Linked DNA regions of Homo sapiens. The protein of the gene in region 1 purifies or fractionates together with the protein of each later gene. This does not show direct contact. Each region holds a gene or a part of one and is shown in the gene's direction. Other genes may lie near its edges. The genes, in order: RPE, TRAP1 and NRBP1.

Region 1 (3,652 bases):
GATTTTATTTATCTTGTGCTCTTCAAAGGGGATAATAATAGCATCTACTTTGTAAGGCTGTCGTGAAGATGAAATGAAGTAAATTACGATGCTTGGCATGTAGTAAACCCTCGGTGAAAGGTGGTCGTTACTAATAAACACATCATGTTTCTTTATTAGTCATCTTTAAGAAAGTTTAAAGAAACTGTCATTTAGTGCCTTGTGATAGAAGTGATTAGAAGTAGCCACAGGCCTCCTGAGATAGACTAGGATTCAGGAGATCAATATTAGAGTCCAGAACTTACTAACTAGTGTGTGACTTGGGCAAGTCATAAAGCCTGAGGGTTTCTGATTTTATCATCTCTCCATTTCTACTTGTCATGGGTCGTGAATTACGGAGTCAAATCATTATGAAAATATATGTGACGTGATTTGTTGAAATGTCAAGGAGACATTGCCTAGTAAAACCAAAATGACCCATTATTTTTAGTATTATTTAATACTGATGATTAAGTATTAAATTGAAAAACATTGCAGACAATCCCCTCAACCTGTGTCAGAATTCATATTGAGAGAGATACAGAAACTGAATTGAAAACATTTTCAGAGTAGATTTTGTTTGTCTTGTAGGCATTTTGTTCCCAACATCACCTTTGGTCACCCTGTGGTAGAAAGCCTTCGAAAGCAGCTAGGCCAGGACCCTTTCTTTGGTAAGTGGGTGTTACGCCATCTGAAGCTGGATGTGTTGCTCAAGTAAAGGAAAACTGGATGGTTGATTTTAACTTCCAAGTTCATCTGGCACCCTTTCCCCAACTTTCCTATCCTGGGTCTTCATTGGCCTGACTCCAGTAACAAGCCAAACTTCTTCCTGCCTCTGGGCCTTGGCTAATCTGCATGGAAAGGTAGTAGCTTGGCTGGCTGCCTCATCTTTGGGCCTCAAGTCATTTGTCATTTCCTCAGAGAGGCCTTTTTGAGCGTCCTCTCCCAAATTAACCTTTATCCAATTATCTTATCACCTGTTGATTTTCCTCTGAGAACTTCCTTTGATCTGCGATTACTTTTATTAGACTATAAACTCTCTGAGGGCGGGGATTGAATCCAGTTTGTTTACTGTGGTTTTCCTAAAGCTAAGCATAGACATGATCAGGGCTCAGTGTAATTGTTAAGTGAATTTATGAATCAGTTGATTTATGGTCCAGAAGCCATTTATTTTGTGCAAATTGGAGCTTTCTACAAGTGGTGCCTAAATATTCACTCCAATGTCCTAGTACAATGTAAATTAAGATTTTTAAGATTACTTAGTGGCCTACAAGTGATTTATGTTAAGTTAGCAATGTCTCACCTGCCAGATCTCTTAAACATGAGAAATTTTACACATTTTTATAAATAGTGTTATTTATTTTTTTCTTTTTTTTAAAATAGAGACTGAGTTTCGCCATGTTTCCCGGGCTAGTCTCAAACTCCTGGGCTCAAGCAATCCACCTGCCTTGGCCTCCCAAAGTGCTAGGATTACAGGCTTGAGCCACCAGCCTAGCCATAAATAGTTTTTTTAACGTAGCTTACAATTTAGTAGAACTTAGATTCTTTTTAATCAGCATATTGCTGACCAGTTTTATGAAGGACTCTGTGCTGTTCACTATGGTAGTCATAAGCCACATGTAGCTATTAAAATTAAATAAACTTAAGTTCATGACCAGAATGGCCAACATGGTGAAACCCTGTCTCTACTAAAAATTCAAAAATTAATCAGGCGTGGTGGCAAACACCTATAATCCCAGCTACTCAGGAGGCTGAGGCATGAGAATCACTTGAACCTGGGAGGTGGAGATTGTAGTGAGCTGAGGTCATTCCACTGCACTCCAGCCTGAGTGACAGTGTGACACTCCATGTCAAAAAAAAAAAATTTTTTTTAAATTAAATAACATAAACTTAAAAATTCGGTTTCTTATTCACGTTAATCACATTGCAAGTCTTCAGTAGTCACATATTGTACAGTGCAGCTATGGGACATTTCCAATATCACAGAAAATTCTGTTGAATATAGTCTCCAGCCTCTGTGTAGGATCTATCTACTTTGAGTTCACCAAAGAAAATGTACATTATTACCTCATTTATGTGGCATGAGGAAACAATGTTCCACCAATATATTCACCATTTTGAAATTTCCATATAATGGGATATAGTCCTCTGATTATCTAAACTTTCTTTTAAGCCATGATTAGCTTATATAGCAGATACCGTGACTTTTCCTATGAATTACGGTTGTTCTCATGACCATGAGAGGTAGATGAAATAAATAGCATTGTTTTCTCCCACTGTACAACCAATGGCCAGAATCCTCGCTTCTGGCTTGCTTGTGTGAATTTTTTTAATGCTTGCTTTTTTTCCCCTTTTCGCTCCCTTTTATTTGGGCTCCCATTGTCACACCATACTATTGTCTATATCCCTTCCTGTCAGTGCCTTTCCTTTTAGCAATCCTGTGTTGCTGCCACCACACACAATCTGCTTTTTCTTCTTGTTTTTAATTTGTTGATAAACTTGCTAATTAATCTTTCTAGAATTTGGTCTAAAAGATAAATGAACTCCATTCACTTTAATGTTTGGGTTTTGTGACCCTTGTTTTTTGGTTTTTCGCTTTTTGTTGTTGTTGTTGTTGTTGCTTTAAGAGACAGACTCCGTCTATTACCCAGGCAAGAGTACAGTGGTACAGTCATAGCTCACTGCATCCTTGAACTCCTGGGCTCAAGCAATCCTCCCGCCACAGCTATAGCTAAGACTACAGGTGTGTGCCACCACAACCGGCTATTTTTTTTTTTTTTTTTTTTTTTTACTTTTTGTAGAGATGGGATCTCCCTGTATTGCCCAGGCTAATCTTGAATGCTTGGGCTCAAGCCATCCTCCTGCCTTGGCTTCCCAAAGTGTTGTGATAGTAGGTGTAAGTCACTGAGCCCGACTACCTTTGTTTTTTATATTGAGAAACATTTGTTTAATTCTTGGATTTTGGTTGTTGGATAATTGATACATGAATGTATTCTAGGACCTAGATTACATGTTGTGTTGTATATGTAACGCTAACATTCTTAACTGTTCAGTTTTCATATTGAGTAGAAATAAATGTCTAAGAAATACAGTGATGGGAAAAGTCTGTTCCTGTTATTGTCTAAATCAGTGATCCTCAAGTATGTTGTATAAGGACCCACACAAATCCTTAAGACCCTTTCGGGTCATCCATGAGAGTATATCAAAACTATTTTCATAATCCTAAGAAATTATTTGCCATTATTTCTACTGATGGTACAAAAACATTGATGAGTTAGTTTGCTGGTGCCTTAACCAACTCAAGGCAGGGACTGTATCAGGAGTTATTCTTCATCATCATGCATTTGCAATAAATATCCTTGATGAAGCAGTAGAAATTAATAAATCTTGGTCCCTGAATACATGCCTTTTTAATATTTTGTGTGGCAAAGTAGGAAGTGCATATAAAGTGCTTGTGCTGCATTGCTGCATACTGGAACATAATGGTTTTCTCAAGGAAAACCACTTGCACCATAGAGGTGTGATCTGAACTAGCTGCTTTCCTCCAGAACACTATGTTTGTTTGAAAGAACAACTGACAGATCAACTATGGTTTTTCAGACCTGGCTATTTTAATGACATTTAAAAAATATTA
Region 2 (3,652 bases), on another chromosome or scaffold:
CTCTACCAAAAAACCCTTTTTTTTTTTTTTCCAATTAGCTGGGTGTGCCTGTGGTCCCAGCTACCCAAGAGGCTGAAGTGGGAGGCTCCCTTAAGCCTTGAGAAGTCGAGGCTGCAGTGAGCTGTGATCACGCCACTGCACTACAGTCTGGGTGACAGAGTGACAGTGTCTCAAAAAAAAAAATATATATATATATATATATATACACACACACATATAAAAGAAATTAATTTTGAGATAGCTAAATTAAATGCCATATTAAGAGCAGGAGGCTATTCAGCAATGCTGCTGAGAAGAAGACAGAAGGACGTGGGTCCTTCTAATGTAACTATGTGTGTCGGGTTAGTGATATGCACCTCGAAGGAGAAATTAAGACAGCACATTGCCATGTTAGTTCACACTTGCCAGTATTTCAGCATTTGTCAGGCAATGGAATGTTCAAGCGAATTTTCCACGAGGCTGACTTTAAAACATTTCATTTTAACCATTATGATGAGAAGTCTTTCTAGAACACTCCATCATTTGATGGCCCATGACTGAACCTCTCTTGGATGTTTTCAGGGTCATTATTACGGGTGTTAATGTTTGGTCTTCTGTTTTAATATGTAGGCTCCCGTAGGGCCATTGAAATGTGAAGAATCCTTCGTCTATGAAGTGTCCCCACATCAAAACTGCATTGTGAGTGTTTATATTTTTGGCCTCTCTTACTGTGGCCTTAACTTGCAGGTCTGTCTGGAGCCCTGTTCTCTCCTTTCCTAGTTTGCAGATGTGGCTGGGAAACTTGTTAGCATCAAATTGTTAGAATGAGATGGATTTCATATGGGGCCAGTAGTCTTCCATGAGCAAAGCTCAGGGTGAGGGCTTCAGGCCCATATTTTGACTATTCCGAGGTGCCCTTTCGCTTTTTGTTCTTTTTCTTTATGTTCAAGGAGTTATGTTTCCTGATGAATGAAGTATCAGTATATCATAGTAGAGAACGATTAGACCAGGTTCTGGAACACAGGAAACCTCAAGAAACAGTGAGTGTTGAGAATGCCAGAGCTAAGAACTCAGACATTTGTGAGGGAATACAGGTCTTTCTGTTCAGAATGTTCATGTACTTAAGAATCTTCTCGCCAGGCGCGGTGGCTCACGCCTGTAATCCCAGCACTTTGGCAGGCTGAGGCGGGTGGATCACCTGAGGTTAGGAGTTTGAGACCAGCCTGACCAACATGGAGAAACCCTGTCTCTACGAAAAATACAAAACTAGCCGGGCGTGGTGGCGCATGCCTGTAATCCCAGCTACTTAGGAGGCTGAGGCAGGAGAATCGCTTGAATCTGGGAGGTGGAGGTTGTGGTGTGCCGAGATGGCGCCACTGCACTCCAGCCTGGCAACAAGAGCGAAAACTCCGTCTCACACACACACACAAAAAAAAGGGAAACAAAGGTAAACTGGGAAGGAACCGTGTGTAATCTTCCGTACCTTGCATTTTCCACTTATATTCTGGGGTTTGTTTCCTGTCGCCACAGAGCTCTGGTATTCCATAGCGAGGATGTTTTGTAATTTATGTAACCCTCTCATGGCGGACATTTAGGTTGTTGCTGAGTTTCCCCAAGATAACAGACGGCATTGCCAACAGTTTCTCACACCTTCACCAGTGCTAGAATGACAGTATTTAAAACATCTGTCAATCTGGTAGTGAAAATGCTATCTCGTTTTAAAGTGCATTTCCTTAGTTATGAGTGTGGTAAAACATCTTTTACTAGGACGTAAAGCCATTGATGTTTCTTGTTTTTGTGAATGGCCATTTTTCTCTTGAACCAATGGCCTTTTTCTTTTTTTTTTTTTTTTTTTTGAGATGGAGTTTTGCACTTGGTGCCCAGGCTGGAGTGCAGTGGCGTGATCTTGGCTCACCGTAACCTCTGCGCTAGCCCTTTTAAATAACTTTTAAAAATTGAGACAGTGTCGGGCCAGGCACGGTGGCTCACGCCTGTAATCCCAGCACTGTGGGAGGCCGAGGCGGGCGGATCATGAGGTCAGGAGATCGAGACCATCCTGGCTAACACGGTGAAACCCCATCTCTACTAAAAATACAAAAAATTATCTGGGCATGGTGGCGGGCGCCTGTAGTCCCAGCTACTTGGGAAGCTGAGGCAGGAGAATGCCGTGAACCCAGGAAGCGGAGCTTGCAGTGAGCCGCGATCGCACCACTGCACTCCAGCCTCGGCAACAGAGCAAAACTCCATCTCAAAAAAAAAAAAAAAATTGAGACAGAGTCTGACTCTGTTGCCCAGGCTGGAGTGCAGTGGCGCCATCTCACCTTACTGTAACCTCCGCCTCCCGAGGTTAAGCAGTCCTCTCGCCTCAGCCTCACAAGTAGCCGGGATTACAGGCACGCGCCACCATGCCCGGCTCATTTATTTTTATTTATTTATTTATTTATTTTGAGATGGAGTCTCGCTCCGTCGCCCAGGCTGGAGTGCAGTGGTACAATCTTGGCTCACTGCAACCTCCGTCTCCCAGGTTGAAGCATTTCTCCTGCCTCAGCCTCCCTAGTAGCTGGGACTACAGGCACCCGTCACCACGCCCGGCTAATTTTTGTATTTTTAGTAGAGATGGAATTTCACCATGTTGATCAGGCTGGTCTTGAACTCCTGACCTCATGATCCATCCGCCTCAGCCTCCCAAAGTGTTGGCATTACAGGTGTGAGCCACTGCTCCTGGCTTTCTGGCTAATTTTTGTTTTTTTTTGTATTTTTAGTAGAGACAGGGTTTTGCCATGTTGGCCAGGCTAGTCTCAAACTCTTGACCTCGGGATCTGCCCGCCCCCACCTCCCAAAGTGCTGTGATTACAGGCGTGAGCCACGGCACTAAATTTTATTTTAGAGGCAGGGTCTTGCTTTGTCATCCGGGCTGGAGTGCAGTTGTGCGATCCTGGCTCGCTGCAGGCCTGACCTCCTGGACTCAAGTGATACTCCTGCCTCATCCTCCCAAGTGGCTGTGACCTCTTCCTCCCAAGGAGCATGTGCCACCATGCCTGGCTAATTAAAAAACATTTTTTTTAGAGATGGGGTCCCACTATATTGCCCCGGCTTGTCTTGAACTCCTGGTCTCAAGTGATCCTCCTACTTCTGCCTGCCAAAGTACTGGGATTACACGCAGGAGCCGTCGTGCCTGGCCCCCAGTTTTTTTCTTAATGTGTTTGTCTTTTTTTTTTTTTTTTTTGAGTTAGAGTCTCGCTCTGTCTGTTGCCCAGGCTGGAGTGCAGTGGCACGATCTTGGCTCACTGCAGCCTTCGCTTCCCGAGTGCAAGCAAGTCTCCTGCCTCAGCCTCTGGAGTAGCTGGGATTACAGATGCCCGCTGCGACTCCCAGCTAATTTTTGTATTTTTGGTAGAGACGGGGTTTCACCATGTTGGCCAGGCTGGTCTCGAACTCCTGACCTCAGGCGATCCACCCACCTCAGCCTCCCAAAGTGCTGGGATTACAGGCATGAGCCACCTCACCCGGGTGTTTGTCTTTTGACTTAAATTTTTATGTGGTCCTTATATTTATGGCCTTTTGGGTTATATATTTTGTTTAGAAACATTTCCTCTTAAGGCCGGGCGCGGTGGCTCACGCTTGTAATCCTAGCACTTTGGGAGGCTGAGGCAGGTGGATCACGAGTTCAGGA
Region 3 (3,652 bases), about 180 Mb from region 1:
AAATGAGTGAATGAAAAAAAAAATGTTGTTAACCAATACCCATTTGTCACACTCACATCACAGGAAAGGTGAGGTCATCAGGGATGAAGTCACTAACAACTGCCAGTCATGTGCCCCAAGGGTAGCCTCACCATGGACTAGTGGGCTTGTTCTGTGTAGAGAAGGGATGGATAGTGAATGCCAAGGTTAGTTCTAGCTGGATAAATTAGCCAAGGGTTTCAGCTGGATAAGTTGGCTGAGGGTGCTACAGGTCTAGCCTTAAGGCTGTCTCACTGAAACATTTTGGAGTCTGGAGTCATCTGTTCTGAATAGCGCCCACATAGTTTATATTTTTTTATTTTTTGAGACAGAGTCTCACTCTGTTGCCCAAGCTGGAGTGCAGTGGCACGATCTCAGCTCACTGCAACCTCTGCCTCCCGGGTTCAAGTGATTCTCCTGCCTCAGCCTCCTGAGTAGCTGGGACTACAGGTGCGTGCCACCACACCCAGCTAATTTTTTTATTTTTAGTAGAGACAGGGTTTTGCCATGTTGGTCAGGCTGGTCTCGAACTCCTGACCTCAGGTAATCCACCTACCTCGGCCTCCCAAAGTGTTGGGATTAAAGGCGTGAGCCACTGTGCCCGTCCACACATAGCTTAATTCTTGAGCACAGTAAAAATAGGGTGTACTTGGGGATTCAAAGGGAAGCCTATTGGATGAGTATTTGCCAAGAAGGAATGGAGCACCTGATTTTGCTGGTGATTTGAACCTTACTCTAAGTGGGATTAGACTGCCATAAATCTTGTGTTTGTCATTCCTGGGAGGGTCATCTTCAACTAAGATAGCTCCCCTTTTCTAGACTAGAGTTAGGAGAATAGTTAATGTTTCAGTATTTAGGACTGATTCTGATTTTGGATTTAAAGGAAACAAAGGTGGTGTGTGTTTTCTATTTTTAATTTTTAAAAGTTTTGTGTAGAGACTGGGGTCTTTTTATGTTGTCCAGGCTGGTCTCAAATGCCTGGCCTGTTTTATTTTCTTTTGAATTTGCAGATAAGTATTAGGATTATTAAATCTTTTTTTTTGTTTGTTTGTTTTTTGTTGAGACAGGGTCTCCCTCTGTTGCCTAGCCAATGGCATGATCATAGCTCACTGCAGCCTCAAACTCCTGGGCAATCAAGTGATTCTCCCATCAGCCTCTCGGGTAGCTGGGACTATAGCTGTGTACCACCTTGCCCTGCTAATTTTTAAATTTTTTTGTAAAGATGGGGTCTCACTTTGTTGCCCAGGCTGGTCTCAAACACCTGGCCTCAAATGAACCTCTTGCCTCGGCTTCTCAAAGTGCTGGGATTACAGAGGTGAGCCACTGTGCTCAGCTGGATTACTAAATTTTTTTTTGAGATGGGGTCTTGCTCTGTCACCCAGGCTGGAGTGCAGTGGCGTGATCTCAGCTCACTGCAACCTCCACCTCCCTGGTTCAAAAAAATTCTCCTGCCTTAGTCTCCTGAGTAGCTAGGACTACAGGCACGCGTCACCACACCCAGCTAATTTTGTATTTTTAGTAGAGATGGGGTTTCACCATGTTGATCAGGCTGGTCTTGAACTCCTGACCTCAGGTGATCTGCCCACCTCAGCCTCCCAAAGTGCTGGGATTACAGGCATGAGCCACCACGTCCAGCCTGGATTACTAAATCTTTACAGATGTATCCTGACTTTCTCTGCCTTTTCCCTCTGTATTTGCCCCAACCAGTGCAGGCCTGAGTGTTCCTTCCAGCATGTCGGAGGGGGAGTCCCAGACAGTACTTAGCAGTGGCTCAGACCCAAAGGTAGAATCCTCATCTTCAGCTCCTGGCCTGACATCAGTGTCACCTCCTGTGACCTCCACAACCTCAGCTGCTTCCCCAGAGGAAGAAGAAGAAAGTGAAGATGAGTCTGAGATTTTGGAAGAGTCGCCCTGTGGGCGCTGGCAGAAGAGGCGAGAAGAGGTAAGGTTATGGTACAGTTACTCTTGGGTGAGTGAATTCTGGAAAGGTGAGAACTGGAAGAGCAAAGTCTTAAAAGAGGCCAACCAAACTTCAATAGGTTGGGGGCTAGGAGGAGATGATCATATGGAGTGTTAAAATGGAGGATTTGTGAGATAAGTTTAATTCTCTTTCATATGAATTTCTTCTCAGGTGAATCAACGGAATGTACCAGGTATTGACAGTGCATACCTGGCCATGGATACAGAGGAAGGTGTAGAGGTTGTGTGGAATGAGGTACAGTTCTCTGAACGCAAGAACTACAAGCTGCAGGAGGTAGGTGATGCTGAAAAGGTGAAGCCTGGGGAATGTTGGAACACTGATGTTAGAGAGGAATTGGTGTTGGGAAGCTGCCCGTGAGGAGAGTATGTTGGGGTTAGATCGTTTCTGGGGAGGGATAGGGAATGGCTTCTCAGGATTATTACAGTGATTTGTGACTCTGTTATTCCACTGTCTCCCTTGCTTTCAGGAAAAGGTTCGTGCTGTGTTTGATAATCTGATTCAATTGGAGCATCTTAACATTGTTAAGTTTCACAAATATTGGGCTGACATTAAAGAGAACAAGGCCAGGGTAAGAATTTTTTCCCCATATTTCCTGAACTTATTGCAAAGAGACTAGCTACATTTATTATTGTTCCTTTTACACTCAGAGATTAAAACAAGGTAGTTTTGAAACAGAACTGGAATCAGCTGCAATGGCGATAAGAGTAGGGCTTCAGTTGTCACCTATGCCTTTTGTGTGGCTATAGATTGGGCAGAAAATGAGTGAACTTTTGCTTCTTTCTTCCCATAACTTTCATTGCTTGTTTTCATTGCCCTATTTAGTCTAAGTAAGTAAAGCTAAGAACAAAAGGAGAGAAATTTTAACAAACCTTCAAATTTAAAATATGTTAACAAGGGAAGGGATCATTTCTACTATAAGGCCTTTTAGTAAGTGCTTTGCCTCCCCAGGTCATTTTTATCACAGAATACATGTCATCTGGGAGTCTGAAGCAATTTCTGAAGAAGACCAAAAAGAACCACAAGACGATGAATGAAAAGGTATAGAAGGAGAGCAGACAAAGTTTGAGGCTGGTTTTTGGGGGTGGTTTTAAAAAGGACTCTGTTAATAATGAAGCTGATCAGGAAGGGACGGAAGGAGCTAGTGGGAGAGAGTTAAGAGAGGGAATTACTGCTGACCCTTGGATCCAACTTTGTTCCAGGCATGGAAGCGTTGGTGCACACAAATCCTCTCTGCCCTAAGGTAAGTAGTACCTGGTTAGTTTCTTACCCATATTTCCTGATGTAGTTACTCCAAACAGATTTCAGGGCACTACTCTTCTGTTCTATTCTGCCTCTCCCCACTTTCTTTGAATCATATACTGTCAAGATTAGGGCCCCTACGGGTCTTTTAAAGGGTGCGTCCTAATGCCCTAACCACGACACTTATCTCCTACCTCTTTCTCCTAGTGCTTATCCAGCTATTTAAATCATCAGGCATAATGGAGATTCAGAGTGTGGGGATTATCTTTATGGTGACCAGCAGGAGACCTGGCCCTTGCTCCTCTTAACCCTTGGGTTCCCCCTGCCCTTAATTTCCCAGTGGCCCCTCTAACAGCCCAGTGCCCCCACAGCTACCTGCACTCCTGTGACCCCCCCATCATCCATGGGAACCTG

What was found.
Region 2: the proteins of RPE (region 1) and TRAP1 fractionate together in Homo sapiens (co-fractionation; one large-scale study listed by BioGRID). This does not show direct contact.
Region 3: the proteins of RPE (region 1) and NRBP1 fractionate together in Homo sapiens (co-fractionation; one large-scale study listed by BioGRID). This does not show direct contact.

What each region holds. Positions count from the first base shown.
Region 1 is NC_000002.12:210,009,048-210,012,699, forward strand, and holds part of RPE (ribulose-phosphate 3-epimerase), read left to right. Parts: intron 1-609; coding exon 610-689; intron 690-3,652. UniProt on the Homo sapiens protein: Catalyzes the reversible epimerization of D-ribulose 5-phosphate to D-xylulose 5-phosphate.
Region 2 is NC_000016.10:3,707,411-3,711,062, reverse strand, and holds part of TRAP1 (heat shock protein 75 kDa, mitochondrial isoform 1 precursor), read left to right. Parts: intron 1-660; exon of another isoform or gene 661-678; intron 679-3,652.
Region 3 is NC_000002.12:27,431,524-27,435,175, forward strand, and holds part of NRBP1 (nuclear receptor-binding protein), read left to right. Parts: intron 1-1,725; exon of another isoform or gene 1,726-1,730; 5' UTR 1,731-1,750; coding exon 1,751-1,960; intron 1,961-2,149; coding exon 2,150-2,272; intron 2,273-2,465; coding exon 2,466-2,567; intron 2,568-2,947; coding exon 2,948-3,037; intron 3,038-3,198; coding exon 3,199-3,239; intron 3,240-3,609; coding exon 3,610-3,652. UniProt on the Homo sapiens protein: Required for embryonic development. Plays a role in intestinal epithelial cell fate and proliferation, thereby involved in the architectural development of the intestine potentially via the regulation of Wnt-responsive genes.